4 separate regions of the Homo sapiens genome follow, and regions 1, 2 and 3 are each reported to be linked to region 4. Evidence: microRNA targets listed by miRTarBase, many of them from high-throughput screens and not tested one by one. Region 4 holds a microRNA gene; each other region holds the end of a gene's coding sequence.
Evidence for each region. Region 4 holds the annotated microRNA hsa-miR-10a-5p (UACCCUGUAGAUCCGAAUUUGUG, at 871-893, shown strand). A microRNA usually pairs through its seed, bases 2 to 8, with sites in the 3' UTR of a target mRNA and lowers its output. Matches are read on the target gene's strand: a 7mer-m8 pairs with bases 2 to 8, a 7mer-A1 pairs with bases 2 to 7 and ends in A, and an 8mer does both.

Region 1: the mRNA of EXTL3 is a reported target of hsa-miR-10a-5p. The part of its 3' UTR that is shown has no 7-base or 8-base seed match.
Region 2: miRTarBase lists ODAD3 as a target of hsa-miR-10a-5p. The part of its 3' UTR that is shown has no 7-base or 8-base seed match.
Region 3: miRTarBase lists SLC41A3 as a target of hsa-miR-10a-5p. The part of its 3' UTR that is shown has no 7-base or 8-base seed match.

What each region holds. Positions count from the first base shown.
Region 1 is chr8:28,750,707-28,754,110 of GRCh38, forward strand. It overlaps EXTL3 (exostosin like glycosyltransferase 3), which reads left to right. Exons shown (of 7, transcript NM_001440.4): 7 at 1-3,404. The coding sequence ends at 160. Among named protein-coding and RNA genes, the nearest start is that of EXTL3, 51 kb to the left of the region's middle. RefSeq lists enhancers at 1,067-2,011, 2,012-2,954.
Region 2 is chr19:11,417,717-11,421,125 of GRCh38, forward strand. It overlaps ODAD3 (outer dynein arm docking complex subunit 3), which reads right to left. Exons shown (of 13, transcript NM_145045.5): 13 at 2,889-3,231. The coding sequence ends at 3,119. RGL3 (ral guanine nucleotide dissociation stimulator like 3) reads right to left here and starts at 1,598. Exons shown (of 19, transcript NM_001035223.4): 1 at 1,530-1,598; 2 at 955-1,068. The coding sequence starts at 1,562.
Region 3 is chr3:126,003,961-126,007,372 of GRCh38, forward strand. SLC41A3 (solute carrier family 41 member 3) reads right to left here. Exons shown (of 11, transcript NM_017836.4): 11 at 2,397-3,265. The coding sequence ends at 3,056. Among named protein-coding and RNA genes, the nearest start is that of ROPN1B, 36 kb to the left of the region's middle.
Region 4 is chr17:48,577,385-48,580,796 of GRCh38, reverse strand. MIR10A (microRNA 10a) reads left to right here and starts at 850; the gene lies at 850-959. The region is part of intron 1 of HOXB3 (homeobox B3); the gene reads left to right. HOXB4 (homeobox B4) reads left to right here and starts at 2,447. Exons shown (of 2, transcript NM_024015.5): 1 at 2,447-2,934. The coding sequence starts at 2,478. HOXBLINC (HOXB associated long intergenic non-coding RNA) reads left to right here. Exons shown (of 1, transcript NR_183916.2): 1 at 1-480.

The DNA.
Region 1 (3,404 bases), not on the chromosome of region 4:
TCATGATGACTCCCACTTCCACGAGCGGCACAAGTGCATCAACTTCTTCGTGAAGGTGTACGGCTACATGCCCCTCCTGTACACGCAGTTCAGGGTGGATTCTGTGCTCTTCAAGACACGCCTGCCCCATGACAAGACCAAGTGCTTCAAGTTCATCTAGGGGCAGCGCACGGTCTGGGGAAGAGGATGAGCAGAGGGAGGAAGATGGCTCCCAAGGTTCCTAGGCATTGCAGGACCTTGGGCACATCTGCTGGTGGGTGGCCCAGAGCCTCTGCTGGAAGGGGCAGCAGGAGGAGTGGAAGGAAACCGCTGCCTTTATCTTGAAGTCAGCCACACTGGGCCTGGAGCCCTGGGCGGAGTCCCCGGGGTTCCCCACACAGGGCACTGACTGATAGCTTACACTGAGGACTGTGGCGACTCTGCAGAGTCACTCACACCGTTCGTACGCCCAGGACAGCTGGTTCGTGGTTTTTACATTCAATAACAACTATTATGATTATTTAAAAAGAGAAAGTTTCAGATTTGCCATTCAAGGCTTATTTATATATATGTGTGTGTATATAAATACATGCACACACTTGCATACATATATATTTTTGGCTGGGGGAGTGTGAGTTTTGCCTTTCTAAGGGAGGGACCGCGCAGGCTCCTTTGTTCTGTATTCTGGCGGAGATGGGTCCTGGCCTTGTGTCACTGGCTTATCCTTAAAGATCATCTCCCATCCTCCCCAGCGCCATCTGTGTGCAGCAACCAGAAAGGGATGAACTTGGCCCTCTTGCGGGCCTGGACAAGGTCTCTTCCTTACCCTTTCTGTTGCCAGTCAGCAACCTGTAACTCACATTCTCTTCCCAGTGAATCCCTGGGAGCGCCTGACCCTGGTGGGCTGTTCAGCTTCCTGCTGCTGGGGCCAGCGATTTTTGAGGATTTATCTTTAGGCCAGGCTTGCCTCCGTACTTATCCCTGCTCTCCCATTTCTCTCTTGTTTGAGAGAGAATGAGGAAGCAAAGAGTGAGAAAGAATAGGGGCTGAAGACGCCACTCCCAGATGGCTCTTTCTATCCTGCTCTTCTGTTGAAACACACGTGCTGTGGGCCTCAGGCGTTTCTGAAGTGCTCTTTCTTGGATTGGACAGGAGATCAGCAGCGTGCACATCTGCTGTGGTCTGAAGTGGTTTGCAGGTCAGCCTCCTCTCCCTAGTGTAGAGCAAGCCAGTGTCCTTCGAGGAACCCACCCGGCTGGCCGGGAAGTTTTACAGCAAGGCGCCTGCCTTGGGATAATTCCTTGGTGAAATTCACCTTCCCCCCGCCTCTGTCTGGAGCCCCATCCTGTGTTATCTGTGGTTTTTGGACCCCTAATGTCAGCTTGGCTGTAGGACTCCCCGAGGTTTGGTATGTGCTAGAACAATGGGAGGCTGTGATTTGCTGTGTAAGCTCACATCCAGCCTTGGAATCTAACGGGCATTCACAACCCGAGTTACCACTTTCCACTCCCTGCTTAGGATTCTGTTCCCTGGGCTGAAACTGAAATAAGCTAATTTTTTGGGTCACGGTGGCAGTAGGGGAACCTAGGAGGGTGTGAGTGGCATTTGTCAGGGATTTAGCCCATGACGTGTTTCTTGAACCCTACTTTCTGGAAGTGGAGTTGACTCTGGAAGTTTTCTAGCAACTGAACAAAAGCTCAGGTTTGTCCTGGTCATGCACATGCCTTAAGCCAGTTCCGTCTTCCCTAGACCTTGGCATCCTGTGCTTCTATTTCTTGGAATACGTTCTCCTCTGACCTGCCTGTACCACGTGGGTCCTCTTCAAGTACTGTTTTGAAGCTGGGCTCTTTTGTGTAGCTCCCACCCACCTGTAGGGCTAGCTCGGCTTAAGGGAACTCTCCCCATTGGCAAACCGGACCCGGCCGCCGCCAGGACTGTGTTTCCAAAGGTTCCCCGCCCCCAACCCCAGCATCAGCCTGTAGCTCCCCTGCTGAGGCAGTGTGGTTATGTTCCCAGCAGTGGGGGTCAGACGCCCTTCCTCAGAACTTTCTAGTTGCCCTCTACCTGACTCCTGACTTGTATTCCTTTTAGCAGTAGCCTTCTTCCCTCGGGGAGCCAAAGAGTGTGGTGTGTGGCGCTATATTGTGGCTGCTATTTCATCTGGTTTCTTTTAATGTGAGGAACTCACATACTGACTTCAGTGGGACTCGGTGAGCCGGGGCCGTCTGTGTGGTGGGACCCCCTTTAGCGGGACTCAGTGAGCTGGGGCCGTCTGTGTGGTGGAGCCAGGGCCTCTCCCTTTAGTGGAGCCAGGTTGTCGGGCCCCGAATGTCACTGGTGGATCTAAGAAGGGCTGAGTGGTCTGACACCAAAACATGCCGCAGGGAGGGCTGTGGTGCCGGTGCTTCCAACAAGGACAGCCCTCCTTGACCCTGAAAGGAACACTGGCTTGAAGGACTGCAGACAGGCTCTGAGGGGCACGCCCTCCTCAGCGAGAGGCAGCAAGGTGGCCACAGTGTCACTGGTCAGGTGCTTCTCACCACGGGAAAGCCGCCGACCTGTGACTCGCTTGAGATGGGAAAGCGGCGCCACAGACCCCGGGTCTCCTTGGCTGTCTGTGGGCCGCCCCTGGCCACCTTGTCCTGGCTCGCAGGGTGCAGGAGCGCCTCGTTCTCTGGGTGGCCGGCTTGCTGCTCCGGTTTGGGCTGTCTTACCATAACACCGTCCCAGGGCTCTGCAGGCCACTGTGAGCGCTGGCTCCCTGGGCAGTGCTCCTCCGTGTGGACTGTGCCTCAGGCCAGGGCTCACCAGCTGGGGTCCTGTCCGGAAGGATGGGATCTTTCTGGGAGCTGCGCCGGACAGAGTGGGGAGCTCCTAGTTTGTGGGGGGAAGCTTTGATATCCATGCCACGTCCATCCACCCCACCCCTTTTCGTCACGAGCACAATGGTCTTACATTGGATTTTTGTAAAAAAATAAAAATAAATGGAGACTTTAACTCAAGCAGCTTGGAGGTCTTTTGTGGTTTTCCTCAGCAAGTATGGAAGAGTGACCTGAGAGAAGGCACCTGCTTGATTGCTTGATTCCAGGTCGCCACCTGTGTATGCCAGCTGGGCCTGCTCGCAGAAGACGATGGGAGGCAGCCTGACCAGGCCCTGGTGTGGGCTGTGGACCAGAGATGGGTGAACAGACTCACACTCACATGGGCAGCCTTGCCTGTGCCCGGTTCCAGGGCAAGTCATTTTGACAAAACAGGAACTTAGGGGCTGTTGAGGTGCTTTAAGCAGGATGTGGAAGGGCATGTGGCCCATATATGCAAAGTTAATTTTTTCATGGGAATTTAAAATGCGTGTGTGTGTGTGTGTGTGTGTGTGTGTAGTGGTTGTGGGGAGCTGTGTGTGCCTGCGATCCCAGGACAGGTGAGGC
Region 2 (3,409 bases), not on the chromosome of region 4:
GCCTCGGCCTCCCAAAGTGCTGGGATTACAGGCGTGAGCCACCTCGCCCCGCCTGTAGCACCATTCTTTCATGTGATTCCTCTGTCTCCCGGCTTCTTGGAGTTATTGTTTTGGTTTGTTTTTTTTAGAAACAGGTCTTGTTTTGTTGCCCAGGCTGGGGTGCAGTGGCACAATCATAGCTCACTGCAGCCTCCAAGTCCTAGACTCAAGCGGTCCCTCTGCCCCAGCCTCCTGAGTAGCTGGGACCACTGCTGGGCATCATCACGCACAGCTAGTTTTTTAATTTTTATTTTTATTAGAGAGAATCTTGCTGTGTTGTCCAGGCTGGTCTCCAATTCCTGGCCTTCTGCCTTGGTCTCTCGAAGCGCAGGGATTATAGGTGTGTGCCCCACTCCCTGCCCGCTTGAAGTTATTGTTCCTCCCCATCCACAAATAGCTCCTGCAACTTGCCCTGGAAACCCTCCCTCTCCCATGCCCTGTCCCCTACTCCCTCTCCCGTCCCCTCCCCCTCCCGTCCCCTCCCCCCACCCCCCCGCCCCCGCCCCACACACTCTTTTCCACCCAGGGCTTCCCTCAGCCCTCCTGTCGCGCTTCACTGGCTGCCCCATCCGCCCTCACCTAGCCACTTCTAAACCAACCCCATTCCACCTTCCAGCCCCGGCCCTCTAAACCTGCCTTTCCCAACTCTGCCGTCCAGTTCTGTCCTTACCAAGTTGTCCCTAGGCTCCTCTCGGGAACTGCGCGGCCATCGCCTGGCCCCACCCCATTCCCTGGATCTCCCCCCACTTACCTGGCCGCCCCCAGTCCCCTTTCTACCTGGTCGCCTCATCTGGTCGCCTCCGAGCCCCTCCCTTCCTTCCGCCCACTGCACCTGGCGGCCTGTGCTCGGCTCTCCAGCTCCGCCCTCAACTGGTCGCTTCCGGCCCCGCGCCACCCACCAAACCCCCTCCTCACCTGGCTGCCCCCGGGGCCCTCCGCCGGGCTCCTGCGCTGACTGCGCTGCCGCCGCAGGGAGACACTGTACACCGCGCCGTCCTCGGTCTCTTCACCCCAGTCCTGCAGCGGTGCCTGGACGCACAGGCGGACTCAGGGCACCAAAGGGGCACAGGTCCTGGGGCCTCAGCCTCCTTGGCCGCTCGGACTCGGGCCGAGTCCTCCTGCTGCATCCCCACGCCCCTTCCCGGCCAGAAGCTGCGAGACTAGGGCTGGGGTCCCAGGCTAGTCCCCTCCTCGCTGCGGGTCCCCTCCTCCCAGGTCCTGAGGACATGGGGTGGCATTTGGGGATGTCCCAGGGCCCAGTCTAATAGAACCTGTCTCTAGCTCTTTCTGCCGACTGCGCTCAGAGACTCGCGCCCCCATCCCTAAGAGGAACCAGTCGCTTCACTGGGTCAAGGGCCGCGAGTCCCCAGGAGGGGACTCCAGGGCAAGTTCAGATTGGGAGCAGATACCGTCCGACGGGCGGGCGCTTGGAGTTTCTGGACCTGCGGGTCACCAGGGATGCGGGGTCCGGGGATCCCTTGTCCCCTTACCAGGGCCAGCTCTTTGCCTGCTGTGCGCTCCATGGCCGGCGCCCGTCCCTCTCAGTGGCGCCGCTGAGTGAGGCGGAAGGGCCGGCGGGTGGCGGGTGGCGGGCGGCGGGCAGTGGCCGGGCGCTGAGGCCAGAGGGGCGGAGCGGCCGAGCTGCTGGGGCGGGGCGGGGCAGGGCAGGCCGGACCCAGCCTCTGGGTGCCTCCAGCCGGACCCAGCGCCAGCCCAGGAGAGGTCCTGGCTCTTCCGCTGGGTGCCTATCAATCTGTCCCCAGAAGAAAGGACATATCTGTCCCCAAGGGGTCTTTTTTGTATCCCCAGATGTGGGGGAGCTCCTGTGTGGGGGCATGTGTGTGTCCCCAGACCAGAGTCCTCTGTCCTCCAGTGGAAGGGGCTAGCTTGATCAAGTGTGGGGGCATCTTCCACTTTTTATTATTATTGCTATTATTTTGAGATGGAGTCTCGTTCTGTCACCCATGCTGGAGTACAGTGGCTTGATCTTAACTCACTGCAACCTCCGCCTCCCAGATTCAAAGGATTCTTGTGCCTCAGCCTCCCAAGTAGCTAGGATTACAGGTGCCGCCACCATGCTCAGCTAATTTTTGTATTTTTTGTAGAGGCGGGGTTTTGCCATACTTGCCAGGCTGGTCTCAAACTCCTGGCCTCAAGAGATTCGCCCACCTCAGCCTCCCAAAATGCTGGGATTACAGGCATGAACCACGGCGCCCAGCCTTATTATTTTTTAGAGACAGGGTCTCACTCCTGTTGCCAAGGCTGCAGTGCAGTGGCTTGATCTTGGCTCACTGCAATCTCCGCCTCCTGGGTTCAATCCATTCTCCTGCCTCAGTCTCCCAAGTAGCTGGGACTACAGGCATATGCCACCATGCTCAGCTTTTTTTTTTTTTTTTTTTTTTTTTTTTTTTTTTTTGGTAAAAACTGGTTTTCACCATGTTGCCCAGGCTAGTCTGGAACCCCTGGGCTCAAGCGACACACCCAGCTCAGCCTCCCAAAGTGCTGGGAATATAGGTATGAATGAGCCACTGCACCCCGCCCTTATTTTATTTATTGAGACAGGGTCTGGCTCTGTGGCCCAGGCTGGAGTGCAGTAGCACGATCATAGCTCACTGCAGCCTGGAGCTCCTGGACTCAAGTGATCCTCCCAACTCAGCCTCCCAAAATACTGGGATTACAGGCATAAAACCACTACATCGGGCCATCTCCCATTTTTAAGCTCCATCTGCGTCACTAGCTGATGGGAGTCATCATGACCCAGGTTGGAGGAGGCAGTCTGTGGCCCTGGGTTTTCAGGGACAGCCGTCTCTTGGGTGGTGCAGGGTCAAAAACAGATGAATACCCAGGGGCATGGTCGGTAACATTTATTGCGCAACTCTGAGGCCGGGGCGGACCCAGCTGGGGAGATTTACTGTGGGAACGTCTGGCCCGGCCCCTTCCTCCCCTCCGGGCGCCGCTGGCCGCCTCCGTTCCCGGTCCGGGCCGCGTTCAGCCCCTGAAGGGGCCCCGTGGGGCCTGCGCTAGACCCGGAGGGATCGGGGGCTCCGAAGGGGGCCGCCTGGTGGGTGTCAGGACGAGTCTAGGACCTCCGAGAGCGACGGTGCTTCTTGTGACTTTCGATTAATTTCTGGGAACGGATCTTGAGTGATGCGCGGGTCACTACCTCGTTGTCCTCCTCCTCACTCTCTTCGTCTAAGGGGGGTGGGGGGATGAGCAGGGAGCGATGTGGGATCCAGGTCCCCATCCCTGGCTCCCCTTCCCTTTACCACCCCACTCCACCCCCACCTTGGCCCTGAACAGGGTATCTGACAACCTCCTGCTACCCAGCTTGGGGCCCCAACCGCACCCCTTCATCCCCCCACCCATACTG
Region 3 (3,412 bases), not on the chromosome of region 4:
CTCACCCCTCTCTGGGCTTTGGGTGCCAACTTTGGGTCCCCTCCTTTGGGAGGGAGGCTGGGAGGTGGTTAGGGGCAGCTTGGCACAGGCCTGCAGGTGCCCTTTGACACAAACAGCCTGGGCACCATACCATGGACAGCAGGTCGGTAGCAGGAGGCAGACAGGTTCCTGGGCAGAAAGGGGTGGGGTCTTGTTGAAACCCCCACTTCGATCCAGGAATGGCCTGAAGCCTGGGGACCGGGCTGCCAGTTCAGGGTGGAGTTGGCAGCCCGGAGTGAGAACTTATGGTGCTTTTTCCAGGCCCACCCATGGCCATTCATGGACCAATCAGCATGCACTTCCTCCCTTCTGTGCCCATTAAAAACCCTGGACTCAGGCAGACTCACACTTGTTGGGACGACCTGCCTGTGGAAAACAGCTACCCACTCCGGGTCTCCTGAGAGCTGTTTTGTCACTTGGTGAAGCTCCCCTCTGTCTTGCTCACCCTCCAGTTGTCTGCATACCTCATTCCTCCTGGAGGCAGGACAAAAACTCGGGACACGCTGAATGGCAAGACTCAAACAGCTGTAATACAGGGCTGAAACATGCCCCCCACTTGCCATGTGGCAGGCGATGAGAAGGAGAGAAGAGCTGTAGCCCTTCTGGGAGCCCAGACCTTAGAGCTCCCCAGGCCAGAGCTGTGACACCCTCTTTGGGGCTCTGCGGTACCTGGTGTCTCCAAGCTTCTGGGCACCACCATGTTCCCCTTGTCCAGATGTGGGTAACTGCAGTGGAAGCTGCTTGTGGTACATCTGATCCAGTTGCAGCCTTGCATGGAGCCGGCGCCTGTGCCAGTGCCTGGAGCTGCCTGCCCTGCCACAGCAGCTGGGGTGCCTGGCTGTGTGCAGTGGTTGGACCTCATGCTCACTCGCTCACATACCCCTCATTACTCCATGCCTGGCTCACCCTTGGCAGGTGTGGGATCCCAGGCTGGTAGCGTGAGCTGAGCGCAGCCTGCCAGGCCGAGTGGACAGAACAAGCCCAGTGGGCCTGAGCAAAACTCAGGCAAAGGCACCACTGGCCACAGAGGTTTCTGGCTGGAAAAGCAACACCTCTAGGATCTTGTAACACGGTGTTGGTCAAACCTCTTTGGCACACACATCGCTTGGGTCTGAGCCCAAATGTCTGTTCAAATCAGTCCACCACTCACTAGCCATAGGGCTTTGGTAACGTTAAGAAGCCTCACAATGCTTCAGTCATCTACAAATGGGAGTGGTATGTACTGCATCACTTAATGTGAGGTTATCAGAGTTTACACGTCAAATGTTTAGGATACAACCAGACACACAGAAGATGCTTGATAGATCTTAGCTCTCATTACATGCTTCAGTAGCATCACATGCTTGTCTTTTGCAAGACTTATCAGAGCTGGACTTTCAATACTTGTGTGATGTTGACTATCTCTCCTAGTAGGGACTTGAACCAGGGATGATGAGTGATTTGCCCACAAGTGTGTCCCCAGTATCTAGCATGGAGCTTGGCATATAGTTGTGCTGAATATTCTCCAGTTGCCTCTCCAGATCTATCCCCAGCCTCCCCTGGCTCTGTGCCCCAGGAGGCTGAAACCTCTGTGGATCGTCAAGCGGCTCCCCAGTCATTGAACTTCTGGTTGGGTTTGGCCAATGGGAGACACTGGCAGGAGATAATAGGGTGGACAGAGAATGAGATTGGGATATTTATTTCCCTGGCTTTCTCTGCCAGGCCACAAGCTGATGTAGCTGTGTCTCTTTCTTAGAGATCCCCATGCATCTCAGGAAACCACAATCCCAACTATTCTCCAGGACAGGTGAATGTCTGGTAGTGCCTGGCCCCAGGATGCTTCACCCCTTCTTCTGGTCCCCATGCACCTATAAACTGTGCCTTCCTTAAAGTCTGCTCAATTATTCCAGTTAATGTACCATGTCTTTCCTTCTAGAACATTAAAACAAGAGGTTCTATATCAACATTTGTTGAATACATGAATAGATGTCTGTTTTACCACATGAAGATAATAATCTTCAAGTCCAAGCATGGCTACAGTTGTCCTGATGAGTTAATAAGAGACAGGAAATGATCATACATTTTTTAAAGATGATGTTCTCGAGTAGTAGTTCTCAAACGTGGGTGTGTATGAGAAACCTGGAGGGCTTGTGGAACCCATATAGCTGGCTCTACTCCCAAGAAATGCTGATTTGGCTAGTCAGGCCAGGGGGTGAGGGATAATAATTTGCACTTCTAACAAGTTTCCTGGTGACACTGACGTTTCTAGGCTGAAGGCCACTTTGAGAAACACTGCACTAGAGAAATGCCAGATGCTTTTGTTATTTATAGACCCCAAGCCTCAGGGTTGCATTAACTATCTTTAAAGACATAAAGGGTCAAGTACAATATAATCTGTTTTATTTTACACTTCTCTGATTATTGAAATCTAAATAGAGGTTTTTGCTAACAAACAAAAAGGAAAATAAAAAGACAGCAAGGACACGATTAAATGTTGAGTGCAGATGAAGGGTTGTATGAGGCCCCATCCTGGGGAGGCTGTACACCTTCTTGGCACAGCAGCAGTGTGGCCCACGGAGCTTGAACCTGGTGAAGACAGCAAGTAAGCCACAGCTCAAGAGTTCTGAGGCTTGGGAACAGAAAAGAGCTCCTTCCTGCTCCACCCCAATCTGGGTTGCATGGGCATGGAAAAGAGCAAACACACCCTGCAAAGCATACTGGACATGCCTCTTCTTTACCTTCTCAGGCCAGAACACCCTCCTCTCCACAAACGTGTGCACACTTGCACGCTCATTAAGCATGTGCACACATCATATTCACACACTCAAGCCATGCTCTTGATTTCAGGGCTCTATTGCAGGCTCAGGTATCAACCCCAGAGCCGAGGTGTGTGAGAGCTACCTTAGCAGACTCACAAAAGGCTACTGCAGAGGCAGGGGTCAACCATCCCAAGGACCTGGCAAGGGAGAAACTGAATTCTGTATCCCACTGATGTGAGAGGAAATTCTAATGAGCAAATGGGACCAGCGGGGCCCAGTTAGGGAGGTCCAGATGCCAGTTCTGAGATGCCACCCAGCTCTGCCTTGCTCTTCAGTAGCCAGTCAGTGAAAAAGCAGAGTGCCAGGAGGCCAGTACCGAGCAGGTCCCCCAGCCCTGTAAGGTAGGGGATGCAGTGGTTGTCAGGATCCAGGGCCTGGTGCCAAGTCAGCCGAACCATCACTTCTGCGAGGTACAGCAGGATTGTCACCTGTCAGAAGGGCAAAGAGACACAAAAGAAGACCAAGTCAGAAAGTCAAGTACAGGCAGGAAGCACTAGCTGAGGCTCAAGGAGAGATACCAAGGTGGACAGGTCAACCCCAGCCAGCCTCCTTCATCCAGCTTCTCTTGGGGTCTG
Region 4 (3,412 bases):
GTTTAGAAGGAAAGGACCCGTCTGGGGCTAGGAAGGTGGGGAAATGGGGTTCCTCCCCACACCTCCCCGGGATAGACCCTCTCTCCTGGCTCCCAGGATGTGTGAGAGGCTGGGAGGGGCCCTATATCATCTGGCTGCATCTTTTATGGTTCCTCATTGCCCTTCATTCGGAAATGAAACGCCTTTGATCTTTTCTCAGGTTGTAAACGGAATTGCCCGTCATTAAATATCCGGGGCCCCATCTGCTTGGTCTCCCAGCATTTTTCTTTACAGCTGTTTCTCTCTCTTTTTACCACTGAATTTTTCCAAAAGGACTTTTATTACACCACCTTCACACCCAGCCGCCTCTTCCTCCTCCCTTCGCTGAGAGGCGCTTTGGAAAATATCTAGATATTCGTTTGATCACAAACTAAAGGCTTGGAGGGGCACGGAGGAGCCGATTGGGGTTTTGTTTTTTCTAAAAAAAAAAAAAAAAAAAAAGTCCTGGGGGGAGGGGAGGGGCGCGAAGGCACCCAGAAAGGCCTGAATCTGACTTCGTGGCAGCCTCAGAATGACCCTTCCTCCTTTTGTGCTTAGCTAATGTTTACATCTCATAATTCATGCGCCACCGAGAGTTGCGCGGCGGCGGCGGAGGCAAGGTTCTCGTCCCTTTGCGAACTGGCTACTTGAAATTCTAATAGAAGAGGAGAATTGAAAACCTTGTAATCCCAAGAACAGACTCGCACTGCCTTTTTCTGTTCCCAGAGCTCAAAACTAGAACAAAACGAAATAAAACCAAAGCACTCAAACCACACCCCAAACGAAGAAGGCGCGGAAAGTAGGAGAACTGGAAAATTTCTGGGCCAAGAAGATCTGTCTGTCTTCTGTATATACCCTGTAGATCCGAATTTGTGTAAGGAATTTTGTGGTCACAAATTCGTATCTAGGGGAATATGTAGTTGACATAAACACTCCGCTCTTATTTTTCCAGAAGAAAAAAATATATATATATGTATATGTAGTATTTTTCTGAATGAGGACAGTCTGGTGACTGGCCACACGAAGACTCCTTCCTCTTTATTCCTCTATCTTTTCCTCCTTCAACTGGTTAGAGATGGAGAAATCATCTACCTGAACTCTCCCCACGCCTGCCCCTGGGAGCCTTGGTCCCTTTTCACATCTCTTTAAGAGGTTAATGTTATTGTTGTTGAAGTTTTAAATTTATCTTCTCGTCCCAAACGCACCCATTTTCTATTCTGGGCTCAGGGAGGCTTTATTGGAAATTGCGAAAAAAAATGACTTGTCTTCAGTGTGCGAAGAAGGCAAAGGAAATTTGTTTAACAAACGGATGCTGAGGCCGCCTTTCCGTTTCAGTTCAGAACAAGATGACCTGGAAATACTCGATTACCAAGGAGTGTTATTGTCTGTGTGGGTCACCTCTATGGCTGTATCCCCAGTATCAAAGGGATGTGAGATTTCTATTCGCCGCGGAGGCGGCGACAATTAGAACGTCTCGGACCCATGGTTAGTATTGCTCGGGTGGTTATGGAATTAGCAAATTGCTAATCAATTTTGCTCTCAAAAGTTGCAGGTTTTTTTACCCCAGCGCTCTGTCTATAGTGTGGGAAACCAAGTCGTTTCTCCAGGCTTGGGCCGTGTGGGTTAAAGGGAGGAGTGGATAGGAGAAGGGGGACAGACGGACTGACGGACACAGTCTAGCTAACCGTGCAGCTAAATGAGATTTGGAAGGCGAAGTCTCCCCGAATTAGTGCATGAATTTCCTATCGATCCGCCCGCGGTTCCATTCATCTCTGACAAGTCCCTCTGCGCACCCGCCCTCTAGCTCTGGACGCCTCCTCTCTCACCCCTACCCTTCCCCATCCAGCTGCAGAGAAAAGCCCCAAGCTCTGTGCTCTGGCCCCCGTATGGGTTCCCCTTTCGAGACGGAGCCCCCAACCCGCCAGTAACCTAACTCCCCATAGAGACGCAGGGTGCTAGCGCTCCCTCCCGCCGAGGGGAGGAGACTGGGGCCTTTGGAAGGTACAGAATGCTGGGCAGAGGTGAGGCAGAACAGGAGGGCTACACCGGGAGCCCCAACTTCTTAAGGGATCTAGGGTTTGCGCTCTGCCTAGCGCCCCAACAGGCCCTCCAGTCGCAACCTGCGCGCGCTCTCTCTCTCGCTCTCTCTCTGATCCCGGAGAGAGCGAGGCAAGGAGGGGGTCGCCCCGCAGGAGCCCTATGTAAATCCTGGTGTTGGGTGGGTGGGTGGGGAGGGGGAAGGGAAGAAGGGGAAATAAACCTCTTTGGCTGGAGTGGGGTCCGGGTGAGCAGATTTCCTTATCCGGGAATCGCAGGCGGGGCGGCCATTGGCTCGGAGGATCACGTGGGCGCCTAACTTTGTTCACTTGACAGTAAGTAGGAGGGCTTTCGGAAACAGGAAAACGAGTCAGGGGTCGGAATAAATTTTAGTATATTTTGTGGGCAATTCCCAGAAATTAATGGCTATGAGTTCTTTTTTGATCAACTCAAACTATGTCGACCCCAAGTTCCCTCCATGCGAGGAATATTCACAGAGCGATTACCTACCCAGCGACCACTCGCCCGGGTACTACGCCGGCGGCCAGAGGCGAGAGAGCAGCTTCCAGCCGGAGGCGGGCTTCGGGCGGCGCGCGGCGTGCACCGTGCAGCGCTACGCGGCCTGCCGGGACCCTGGGCCCCCGCCGCCTCCGCCACCACCCCCGCCGCCCCCGCCACCGCCCGGTCTGTCCCCTCGGGCTCCTGCGCCGCCACCCGCCGGGGCCCTCCTCCCGGAGCCCGGCCAGCGCTGCGAGGCGGTCAGCAGCAGCCCCCCGCCGCCTCCCTGCGCCCAGAACCCCCTGCACCCCAGCCCGTCCCACTCCGCGTGCAAAGAGCCCGTCGTCTACCCCTGGATGCGCAAAGTTCACGTGAGCACGGGTGAGTGCGTGGGCACCCCTTCCCCCTCCCACCCCTGGAGCTTTACACCAAAGGGACTTCGGAGGCATGGGTTGGGGGGGGGTTGAGCTGGGGAAGCCAATTGTCCCCGCTATAAACTCGCCATTGCCGGAGATTTACGGTCGCCTGTTTTCAGAGCCACATAATTACATCCCCCATAAATTTTTATGGCCTGGTGGGCCCTGCGCCTTTGAAGTAGGTTCCCCATCCTCTTCACCATTCTCACCAGCGACTTTTTCGCCAGGGAGATACAGTCTTAATGAAGTTGGAAGTTGGGGAGGGGTGGAGGAGGTGGAGGAGGAGAAGGAGGAGGAGGTAATCCGTATTTAAGCAGAGAGTTGAGTCAACTCCCAGTATTTATTTTTTCCTTTCTTCCAGTCTGACTCCTTGGCTGGAGAAGTGAGCAAAAGTTTTCAGTAGGGGTAGGCACTGCTTGGAATCTGAGCAGCAAGGGTGGGAA